Linked DNA regions of Homo sapiens. The protein of the gene in region 1 purifies or fractionates together with the protein of each later gene. This does not show direct contact. Each region holds a gene or a part of one and is shown in the gene's direction. Other genes may lie near its edges.

Evidence for each region.
Region 2: the proteins of POC5 (region 1) and CALML5 purify together in Homo sapiens (co-immunoprecipitation; 3 studies listed by BioGRID and IntAct, with this or other methods). This does not show direct contact.
Region 3: the proteins of POC5 (region 1) and CTSH purify together in Homo sapiens (affinity purification with mass spectrometry; 2 studies listed by BioGRID and IntAct, with this or other methods). This does not show direct contact.

What each region holds. Positions count from the first base shown.
Region 1 is NC_000005.10:75,715,592-75,719,340, reverse strand, and holds the start of POC5 (centrosomal protein POC5), read left to right. Parts: upstream 1-1,903; 5' UTR 1,904-2,035; intron 2,036-3,749. UniProt on the Homo sapiens protein: Essential for the assembly of the distal half of centrioles, required for centriole elongation. Acts as a negative regulator of centriole elongation.
Region 2 is NC_000010.11:5,498,068-5,501,176, reverse strand, and holds CALML5 (calmodulin-like protein 5), read left to right. Parts: upstream 1-1,606; 5' UTR 1,607-1,738; coding exon 1,739-2,179; 3' UTR 2,180-2,480; downstream 2,481-3,109. UniProt on the Homo sapiens protein: Binds calcium. May be involved in terminal differentiation of keratinocytes.
Region 3 is NC_000015.10:78,924,313-78,928,061, reverse strand, and holds part of CTSH (pro-cathepsin H isoform a preproprotein), read left to right. Parts: intron 1-280; coding exon 281-349; intron 350-2,621; coding exon 2,622-2,728; intron 2,729-3,749. UniProt on the Homo sapiens protein: Important for the overall degradation of proteins in lysosomes.

The sequences.
Region 1 (3,749 bases):
GTGTATGGGGTCACCAAAAGGCAATTCAATTAAAAAACAAATACTAGAACCAAGTATGAATTTGCAGCTATTAATAGGAACTTGTCCTCTATAATAAGCATGAAAAAAAAGGGGGAGAACAAACATAATTTATGCCAAAGAAACTTCTGGTGCTCTTCTTACTTGTTTGTGTAAGTAGAAGTCTGGTTCTGCCAACATAAAAGTAAGTGAGACCCAGGTTATGTCATTTCTATCTACAGAAAAAGAAACCTTATACTGGAGGTAACAGAAGGGAGCCTGAAAACTCACCCAGATCTCAGTATCTGTTCTTCAGATTGCAGAACCCCAGTCTGGGCTACTTAGGTACCTTTGCCATCTGGGTCCTCATACCTCTAGCCTATCTGTTGCCAATGTAAGTTGAAAGACTATATGTTTGTGTGTTCGGTGTTTTAGATATATTAATTCCTTTAATCTCCTACCACCTTAGTATGTGAGTAGTATTATCCAAGGTGACAGCGAGTAGATGGTAAAGCTAGATTATAATTATGATCTGATTCTAAGGCCAATACTTCACCAGAAGGCTCTATCTTGAAGTCTGACACGTTTGAGATTAGTTAAAACTAGACTACCAATTTTGGTTTTTTCTTTGTTTTTTGAGACAGAGTCTCACTATCACCCAGGCAGGAGTGCAGTGGCGATATCTTGGCTCACTGCAACCTCTGCCTCCTGGGTTTAAGGGATTCTCCTGCCTCAGCCTTCGGAGTAGCTGGGACTACAGGCGTAAGCCACCACACCCGGCTAATTTTTGTATTTTTAGTAGAGATGGGGTTTCACCATGTTGGCCAGCCTGGTCTCGAACTCCTGACCGCAGGTGATCCGCCTGCCTCGTCCTCCCAAAGTGTTGGGATTACAGGCGTGAGCCAACGCGCCCAGCCTAGACTAGCAATTTCTCAAAGGGTGGTCTGCAGACTCCTGCATCAGAATCACTGGCAGTGTGTGTTAAAAATTCAGATTTCCTGACGGTGTCCATGACCGAAGGAATCAACACCTTCGGCCGGGCGTGGTGGCTCACGCCTGTAATCCCAGCACTTTGGGAGGCCGAGGTGGGCGGAACACCTGAGGTCAGGAGTTCGAGACCAGCCTGGCCAACATGGTGAAACTCCATCTCTACTAAAAATACAAAAATTAGCCAGGCGTGGTGGCGGTCGTCTGTAATCCCAGCTACTCGGGAGGCTGAGGCAGGAGAATCCCTTGAACCTGGGAGGCGGAGGTTGCAGTGAGCCGAGATAGTGCCACTGCACACCAGCCTGGACGGCAGAGCAAGACTCCATCTCAAAAAAAAAAAAAGCACCTCCAAGTGATTCTGTTGCAGGGGATCTGTGGATGATGCAGATTTTTTTTTTGTTTTTAATTTTTTATAGAGAAAGGGTCTCCCTATGTTCCCCAGACTAGTCTCGAACTCCCGGGCTCAAGCGATCCTCCCACTTCGGCCTCCCAAAGTGCCGGGATTACTGGCATGAACCACCACACCTGGCCCAGAATTTCGGATTGTTCTTATGCAGACGAAAGCATTAGGACTCATATCTAGGTTACCGGAATTGTTGAAAGCCAACAGCACACGGCATTAGCCAACTTCAGCCCTGCTCAACAGCCTCTATCCAAATCAGCTCCCGGAGCCGCTTAGCAGCCTGCAGCCGCTGAACAGAACTGAGCACGCGCAATATTTAATCCCCACGGGCGCTGGGTGGGGCTCCCTAGGACCCCGCCCCCTACCAACCTGCGGAGCCAGGGGGCGGGGCTCTCCAAAGTAATTCCGGCTTCTCCCGGCAGCGGCCCAAATCCCCGCCCCCAGCTCTCGGACCAATCAAACGGCAGATTGCTGAAACAAAGGACCAATGCCCAGGGCGGTCCTTAATTCCTCCCTGCAGTTTGAAACTGTCAGGTTGCCGTCTAGGTAGCGGTTGTGCTTGCTGAGGCTGCACTTGCTGACACTGCAGCTGCGACGCGGCTAAGAGGCGCAGAGCGAGGAGTCGGGATTTGGTCGCGAGCGGCGACGGTGGGTAGCAGCGCTCCGGGCAGATCCTGCGTCCCTGCATCCCTGGCGAAAGTAGTGGAGGGAGATTTAAAGTTCCTTGGCGCGTGTTTCCTCCCCCTGGGCTCTTCCCCAGACCGCGAGTGATTCAGCTGTTGTGCCGGAAGGTCCCAAAGTTTCCCCTCCGAGGCGTGCAGGAAGAGGAAGTGAGCAGGAGTGAGGGATGCTGAGCGATTACTGTCATCAGAGGTTCCGGTCACTTAAAACGTTGAGAAAAAATAACCATGTATAAAGCTCTGTTGTGCTTAAGTAAGATTTTTCTTAAAACAGGCTGGGTCGGAAGGTGATGGAAGAAAACTTATGGCCTTTTGCTTACTGCAATGGCTTTTCTCCTCTGCTTCTAGTCCCTGCTTTGGGGAGGGGCTGGCGCGCCCCTTTCCTTGAGTGCAGCTAGGCCTGGTGAAAGGCACAGGCGACATCACCCTGCTGCTAGTTTGCATGTTAATTCGCTCTTCCTTTGCCTCTTGGGGGTTCCATTTGAATTCCCAGACCCCTGTTTTGCTGTCAGCCAGATAATTACCAAGATGTTATTTTATGTTTCTGGCAACAGAGAAGCACACAAAAGTTTTGATCTTGTTTTCTGATACCTTGGATTAGAGACTACTGAAAATGTAGTGAACTAATGTGCGTCCGCCACCCATTAAAGCAGTTTTCATTTTTCTCCTTTGTTTCTGAACCTAGAAACAGTAAGGAAAATGCTACTGTTCTAGAGTTTCAAATAACTCATACCTTGTTGACATAAAGCAGGGCAGATGGAAGATAGCATATTTTCCAAGAGTGCGGTGGGTTTTTTTGTGTCTGCAGTGTGTCCATATTAAGAAACAATTTTTGAGATCTGACCATACTTACTAGCTCATTTTTAAATAATCAGCACCCCCCCCCCCCCACCCCTGTTACCTGCCTGGTCTCAAATCCTGAAGGAAGAAGTGAATAAAAATATAAATGGACCAAGTTATCACAGTGGTAGATTTGAAGTCAGTGAAGCAGCCATTCCTTGCTGCAGATACATGCACTTATTTTATCCTCCCTAATTGGCTTAACTAAAGACAGTCATGCTGAGATTTAGTTTACTTAACATGTGTATGCACAGTGATACTCACTGGAAAAAGTTGAACTTTCCTTTCCACAATTTAGTTCCAGCCTGTGTTTCCATTCTATTTTTGCACTTTTCCCTGTATCTTCCTTTTCTATTTCAATTTCCTCATCTCTCATTTATTTTTCAGCCCACTGTGACTAAGACCTGTAATTGTTTTACTTTCCAGTGAAATTGTTCAAGCAAACGTCTCAGCAACCTCCTAATCTCCAAATTCTATCCAATCCTCATGGTTCTTTGGCATCTAATTCTATTTTCTTCTCAAAGTTGTGATATTGCTTCCATAGTTCTAATGTTCTGACTTCCTTTGCTGACTCCTCTTCTTTGCTGACTGTTCTTCTCTTGCCCTTTAGATGTTAGTGGTTCTGGCTTTAACCCTCTTCTCATTCACAGTCGTAGTCCTTAACTCTATTAGGGCTATGGTCCCCTCTGAACGCATATTTAAAGCGAAAGATCTTCTTTCTAGAAAAATACACATTCACATTTATGATAAAAATATTGCATACGAGTCGGGTATAGGGACCTGATATGGTTAGGTCTTGTGTCCCCACTCAAATCCCATCTTCAATTGTAATCTCCACATGT
Region 2 (3,109 bases), on another chromosome or scaffold:
CTCCCTCTCTGCAGACCTCAGCCTCTCCCTCTGCTGTGGTGCTTCCGAGCCCTTTGCACCTCCCTCTGGCCCCTCACATGCAGCTCAGGGAGCAGCTGCCACACTAGGGCTGGCTGGGGCATCTTCCCTCCTCTCACTGCTCTGCCTGGTTTGCCCCTTGTGTGGTCCTGGGGGACTGAGCTGTGGGTCATGGAGTGCGTGGTTGGGCACCCCAGCCTCCGGCTTCCCTTGGAGAATGTGTGCAGCACCAAGGGGCTGGGAGGTGTTTGTCTGGCTGCACTTTAGGGAAGGAGAGGGCACTTGGTCTATTTGATGGGCTGAACAGGAGGGAGGTGGAATGTATAAACTTTCCCAGGGGAATAAAGGAGTTTGTTCCCTGTGTACGGGCAGGGGCTGGGGAGAAGAATGGGAATCTATGGAGATCAGAGGGGACTTGCTTGGGAAAGGCATTTTGGGGACTCCAAGGCAAATGTCCCCTCACAACTGTAGATCACATCAGTGGAAGGACTTGGGGATGGTCCCCCGAAAGCTTAGCTGTTGCTCTAAAAGTTGGTCAAGGCAAGTGGCCCTGGGGGTTTCCTTCCAGAGAACAGATCAGATTGAGGACCCCAGTAGGCTCCCAGATGGGTCTCTGTGCTTAGGGCTGATGCTTAGTAAAACCACAAGGAGGGCCAAGTTTGATGGCAGCCACCTGTTCTGCATCCTCCTGCACCTCTGCCTGCACCTTTGGGGTATGCTGGGCACTGAGGTCCCCCGTGTCTCGCTGCAGCAAAACTCCAGCTGTAACTGTTTGACGCCCTGTGAATGGAACGCCTGCCACTGAGCTCCCAGGGTGTCTGCACAGGGAACCTTGGACTTGGCGATGGAATTGAATTGTAGGAATCCCTGAGCTAGAAGGGAGTATTCTGGGGAGACAAAAAGTCTTTCCCTCTCCTCTGAAACTGCACGTCACATGTTCACTTGATAAACACCATCTCAGCACCAGCTATGGCTCTGAAGGCAGCCCTGGTCCCTTGCTTCCTTGAAGTTATAGGCAGTGAGCCCCATCCTCTGTCTCTAGACCCTGGCCTGGGAATCTCATGATACCCACAGTTGTGCCCTGGCAGAATCAACACTACCACCCACTTCCCTTCCACCAGCCCCAGCCTCAGGGCAAGAGCTAGGCAGTAGCACTGGAGAGAGGGGTACGGAAACACCAAACACTGGGGCCTGCTGTGCCCTTGAGGGAGCCCTCTTCAAGCCACCTCCCCCTCCAGTCTCAGTCTTTGTGAAGTTGCAGAAGCTGTCTTGAACCCCTTGGCTTGGTCAGGATCTCCGAGAATCAGCTGCAGGGGAAACTATCCCTTGGGCAGAATGTTCCTGGAGGGAGGTGGTTGCTATCAAGGCCAGGCGGGGTTGGCAGGCTAGCCATCCGATACCCCGACCCCATGGCAGTTCCCACCTGGCACCTGACAGCTCTCCCAACTCCCATTCCTGCATTTCCTGTCTGCAGCTGATCTGGCCCTCCCTGGGAGGAGGCTCTCACCCCAGGGCATTTGGAGGGTGGGGAGCCTCCCTCCTCCCTTTGTTCCGATTGCAGAAAAGGAGGGGGTTCCCATGCCAAGGCAGAACTGTCTGGGACAGACGCTGCCCGGATCCCTGCGGCTGCCTGCACTCTGGACCACGAGCTCTGAGAGCAGCAGGTTGAGGGCCGGTGGGCAGCAGCTCGGAGGCTCCGCGAGGTGCAGGAGACGCAGGCATGGCCGGTGAGCTGACTCCTGAGGAGGAGGCCCAGTACAAAAAGGCTTTCTCCGCGGTTGACACGGATGGAAACGGCACCATCAATGCCCAGGAGCTGGGCGCGGCGCTGAAGGCCACGGGCAAGAACCTCTCGGAGGCCCAGCTAAGGAAACTCATCTCCGAGGTTGACAGCGACGGCGACGGCGAAATCAGCTTCCAGGAGTTCCTGACGGCGGCGAAGAAGGCCAGGGCCGGCCTGGAGGACCTGCAGGTCGCCTTCCGCGCCTTCGACCAGGATGGCGACGGCCACATCACCGTGGACGAGCTCAGGCGGGCCATGGCGGGGCTGGGGCAGCCGCTGCCGCAGGAGGAGCTGGACGCCATGATCCGCGAGGCCGACGTGGACCAGGACGGGCGGGTGAACTACGAGGAGTTCGCGAGGATGCTCGCCCAGGAGTGAGGCTCCCCGCCTGTGTCCCCCTGGCTGCGCTCTGAGCCTTCAGGGCCACCGCCCGCTGCTGCTTTTGTGCTGGGACTCTCCGGGGAAACCTGGTCGGTGGATGGGAAACTGCCTCCCCCTGGGAGGAAGGCTTTGCGCTCCGGGGCCTGGATGCGGCGCCCTCGGGCCGCCTGCGAGCCCCTCTCTGCCTCCAGACCTTGGGCAGAAGGAGGCCTCCTTGGGCCTGGTCCCCCTTTGCCCTGCAGTGGAATGAGGGCCCCTCAGCCCCGCATTGATCTAAATAAAGGACTGCCGAGTTCCATGTGTGCTTGGTGTTTGTGGGGCGGCTGCCTCCGAGGGCCCCCACCTGCTTCCAGGGTTCCTTCCAGCCCACCCCTCTCACCTGCGGTGGCAGAACTGCCTGGAGCAGGCCCCAGGGGCAGCTCCTGCCTCCCCTGACGCGGAGCAGAGGGCAGGTGGGCAGAGGATGTGTGAGGATGGTGCTGGGCGGTGTCTGTGGCTCCAGGTTCTGCCTGAGCTGCTGGTGAGGACCTGGGCACGTGTCCCGCACAAACAGGAGCGGGCGCCTCGCATGGACAGACGGAGCCCAGCTGCCAGCCTCTGCACGCAGCCTGCCTCTCTTCGGCTGCAAATAATATACGTGTACGTCTGTGTGTGCATCTGTGTGTGTGTCTGTGTGTCTGTATGCGTGTCTCTGTATGTGTGCATCTGTGTGTAAGTCTCTGTATGTTTGTGTGTCTGTGTGTCCTTGTGTGCATCTGCATGTGTATGTGTGTATCTGTGTGTGTGTCTGAGTGTGTCTCTGTGTCTATGTGTCTGTGTGTGTCCATTTGTGTGTGTGTCTTATCTGTGTGTCTGTGTCTGTGTGTGGCTTTGTGTGTGTATCTGTGTGTGTGTGTCTCTGTGTCTATGTGTCTGTGTGTGTTTATC
Region 3 (3,749 bases), on another chromosome or scaffold:
GCCTCCACTTCTCAGTGAGTTTCCTCAGGCCGGGTGAGGCCCCTCCTCAGGCTCCCACCACACACCATGTGTGCCCACCTCTGCCAAAGCCAGCACAGGACCATCTGCTACCAGACCCTAAGCTCCTTGAGGACAAGGATGCTTTAATTCTCTCTGAAATTATCCCATCCCCCAGGCCCTGGCACATCTTGTTTTGTTTAGTAAATGTTATTGAACTGCGTGGGGAGGCTGAGACTTCGGGTCCATAACCTGTATTTCATGCCCTTTGCATCCTCAACAGGATGGTTATTGCAAGTTCCAACCTGGAAAGGCCATCGGCTTTGTCAAGGATGTAGCCAACATCACAATCGTGAGTGCCGATCCCCCTCTGGGATGGGGAATGTGTCCTGATGAGGAGGCCTCTCTCATGCTGTCGGATAGCCAGTGGGCCCAGCAAGGCAGCCCTTCTGGCAGCACATCCCTTTGACGAGTTCATATTATCCCTGGGTCTCAGTCGCTGTGATGGTGGCGAGGCAGGAGATGGGAGGGAGAGCGCAAACTGGCAGGCAGGCCCTCTGGTTCTGAACTCCAGATCCACACATGCCTTCATTCTTTTGGTTCTGTTTTCTTGCTTGTAAAATGCAAGCAATTGTCCGCATCCTGCAGAAGAGGGTATGAGCACGTGCTTGACACAGCGTGTGTGAAACTGAGGAGGGTGAGTGTGTGTCACTCAGGATGAGCCAGGTTCTGTTGCAATAACAACCGTGCCCAATCTGCATGGCTGACAACAGTCAAAGGGTGTGTGGCACTCCTGCGCCCATGCACAGCTTAGGGAGGGTGGTGTGTGCTCCGTGTCATTGGCCTCACGCCAGGACTAGAGGGAAAGAAGGTGGTAAATGATGCCCTAGCTCTAAAGCCAAAACAAGCCGCCCAGTCACAGTTGACCTCAAGTGAATAGGGAAGTGTGGTCTTACCCTGCTTCTCCCAGAGAGAACTGGAACGTGAATGAACGCCTTCGTGACTGCAGTGTGCATGCATGCAAGTGTGGGAGGGTGTGTGAGGAGTGGAGGAATATCGCTTAGGTTGTGTGTGCGCCCACGAATGTATGTACAGTTCACAAACGTGATGTCTGTGTAATGACAGCGGCTGCCATTTAGTTGAAGCATGTGCCAAGCTCTCAGCAATAACATCTTAACTTGATGGAGTACTTCTAGGTGCTGTACCAACCCTCAATACGCACTATCCCCTCTAGACCCGAACTGGCCCTAGGAGATGAGTATCCTTATTACCTCATTTGACAGGTGAGGAAACGGGGGCTCCAAGTGGTTAAGTAATGTGCCCAAGGCCACAGAGCTAGGAAATAGATGCTGGATTTGAACTAAGAATGTGTCATTCCAGAACCAGGGCTCATTGCCTTGACAACATACAGCGCAAATCCTGTACTCAGGATGTCACCCTCTTCAGAATGTTGCTGCTGTCACTCAAGCTGGCTGCTCTGGGCCATGATATCCCAAGGACAGGTGAATTTGGGCCTCAAAGGTATCCCTTTGCATGGTCCCCAGGAGAGCCTCATTGGTGACACCTGCAGGGCCCTGACGACCAGGCCAGAACTAGCATTCAGCCCTCTTGGGCAGGCCCATGGGGTGGAAATGGTGCCACCTGCAGAAGTCATCGCCCCTGTGCTGGGCTGGCCTCTGTGCCCTCCATGTCTCAGATATGCCCTGACCTGTTGGGCTCACAAGGCCTTGTCCACATACCAGGAAGGAGGGCACTCCCTTGCCAGGCACCTGTTTGCTTTTCACAGCTGGGTCTCTGTCCACCCCTCTAGGGAGGCAGGACTGAGGGAGGCTGGGCGCCCCGTCCCTCCTGCACTTGCTTTCCTTCAGTAGGGCCCTGGCCTCAGCACAGGTAACTTCCCCCCTCATTTCAGCTCCCAGAGGTCTCTTGGTTAGTGCACTTGAACCCAGCCACCCCCAACCCAGAAGCTCCAAAAAGTGCCAATGCCTGGGACCCACCCTGCAGATACTGTTGTAGTTGGTCTGAGGCACAGCCTGGACTTGGGGTTTTTTTAAGGTTCTGCATGGGGTTCTACCTGCTGCTGTCACCTGGTCTCTGCAGCTCTGTTCCAAAGCTGCAGCCTCCAGGAAGCCACCCTGACTTCCCCCCACCTACCTTCCCCCTTGGAGGGGACAGGTTCTACTCAGAAGTCACACAGCCCTCGGATGGGTCTTCTCGTTTCCACCGCCATCTGGGACCTACCCGTCCATGGTTTATAACCCCTGTGTTCTAGCAGCAAAGCTTTGTAGACTCTGGGTTTATGGGTGTAGGGGTGAGAGCTGCTGGCCCAGGAGAGGACCTCAGGGAATGGATGTGAATGACTGAATGAGTAGGTCCACGCTGTACCCCGTGGTCCCTATCTCAGAGGGTGCAGGGTTTCCTAGGAGCAGAGTTGGGGAGAGGAACGAGAGATGGCCAGACAGACCCAGCCAGAGACAGGAAGGGAGAGAGGCCGCAGGGGAGCTGCTTCTGGCCATCCATGCTGCTCTGGGCCTCTAGCCCCTAGCTTGAGGCAAAAGGCTGTACTGTGAAAGGAGTGGGGAGGTGACAGGCCATGTGTTTCTGTCTCGGTCCTGTTTCCACAGTATGACGAGGAAGCGATGGTGGAGGCTGTGGCCCTCTACAACCCTGTGAGCTTTGCCTTTGAGGTGACTCAGGACTTCATGATGTATAGAACCGGCATCTACTCCAGGTGAGTCAGGGTCCCAGGAGCCAGGAGGGACAGTGGGGAGGGGCTTGGTGGGCCTCCTCACACCCCACTCGTGGGACTTGGGCTCGTGGCCCAGACTCCTGTGTGTCAGACCCTTCATGACACCTGCCAGGTGCTGGGCGTTTTGCACATCCCTCAGTTAATCCTCACACAGCCCCAAGGGCCAGGAGCCATGGCCTCTTCTCACAGCAAAGGAGAGGTGGTCAGAAGGGATACGACAGACACAGGCCACCTGGCTAGTGAGAGCTAGGGCCAAAATTTGAGAGCTTTGTGCTCCTTAACAGAAGAGTTGCCTCCAGTTTAAAAAAAACCCATGTTCAGGCCAGGCGTGGTGGCTCATGCCTGTACTCCCAGCACTTTGGGAGGCCGAGGCAGGTGGATCACTTGAGGCCAGGAGTTCAAGACCAGCCTGGCCAACATGGCGAAACCCCATCTCTACTAAAAATACAAAAAAAAAAAAAAAGCCAGCGTGGTGGTGCATGCCTATAATCCCAGCTACTCGGGAGGCTGAGACACAAGAATGGCTTGAACCTAGGAGGTGGAAGTAGCACTAAGCCAAGATCGTGCCACTGCACTCCAACCTTGGTGACAGAGCAAAGCTCTGTCTCAGAAAAAAAAAAAAATACCCATGTTTAAAGATTTGAAGACGTAAAATAGGGAGAAGAGTAGCTGCCCTCACACACTAGGATCCTGTGCTGGAGGAGTCACCCCAGGCTTCTTCAGAAAAACCAAGCTTTAGCCTCTTTACTATGGGGTTTCTCTCACCCACACCTTTTCGCCTGCCTGGTTTGCAGCCTCATTTCCCTCCCTTCATCAGTTGCTGCCCGTTAACGTCACTCACTAATGTCACTCACGTCTGTGCTCTCCTCTCCCTCCCTGAGGCTCTGCCCTGGTCACCATTGTCCTTGGACCCCCTAACCCCCCACACACTGTTCCAGCTTCCACTGGGAGCTGTCTGCCTTCTGAAACACTCCTCTTGCCAACGCCAACCTTTGAACACACC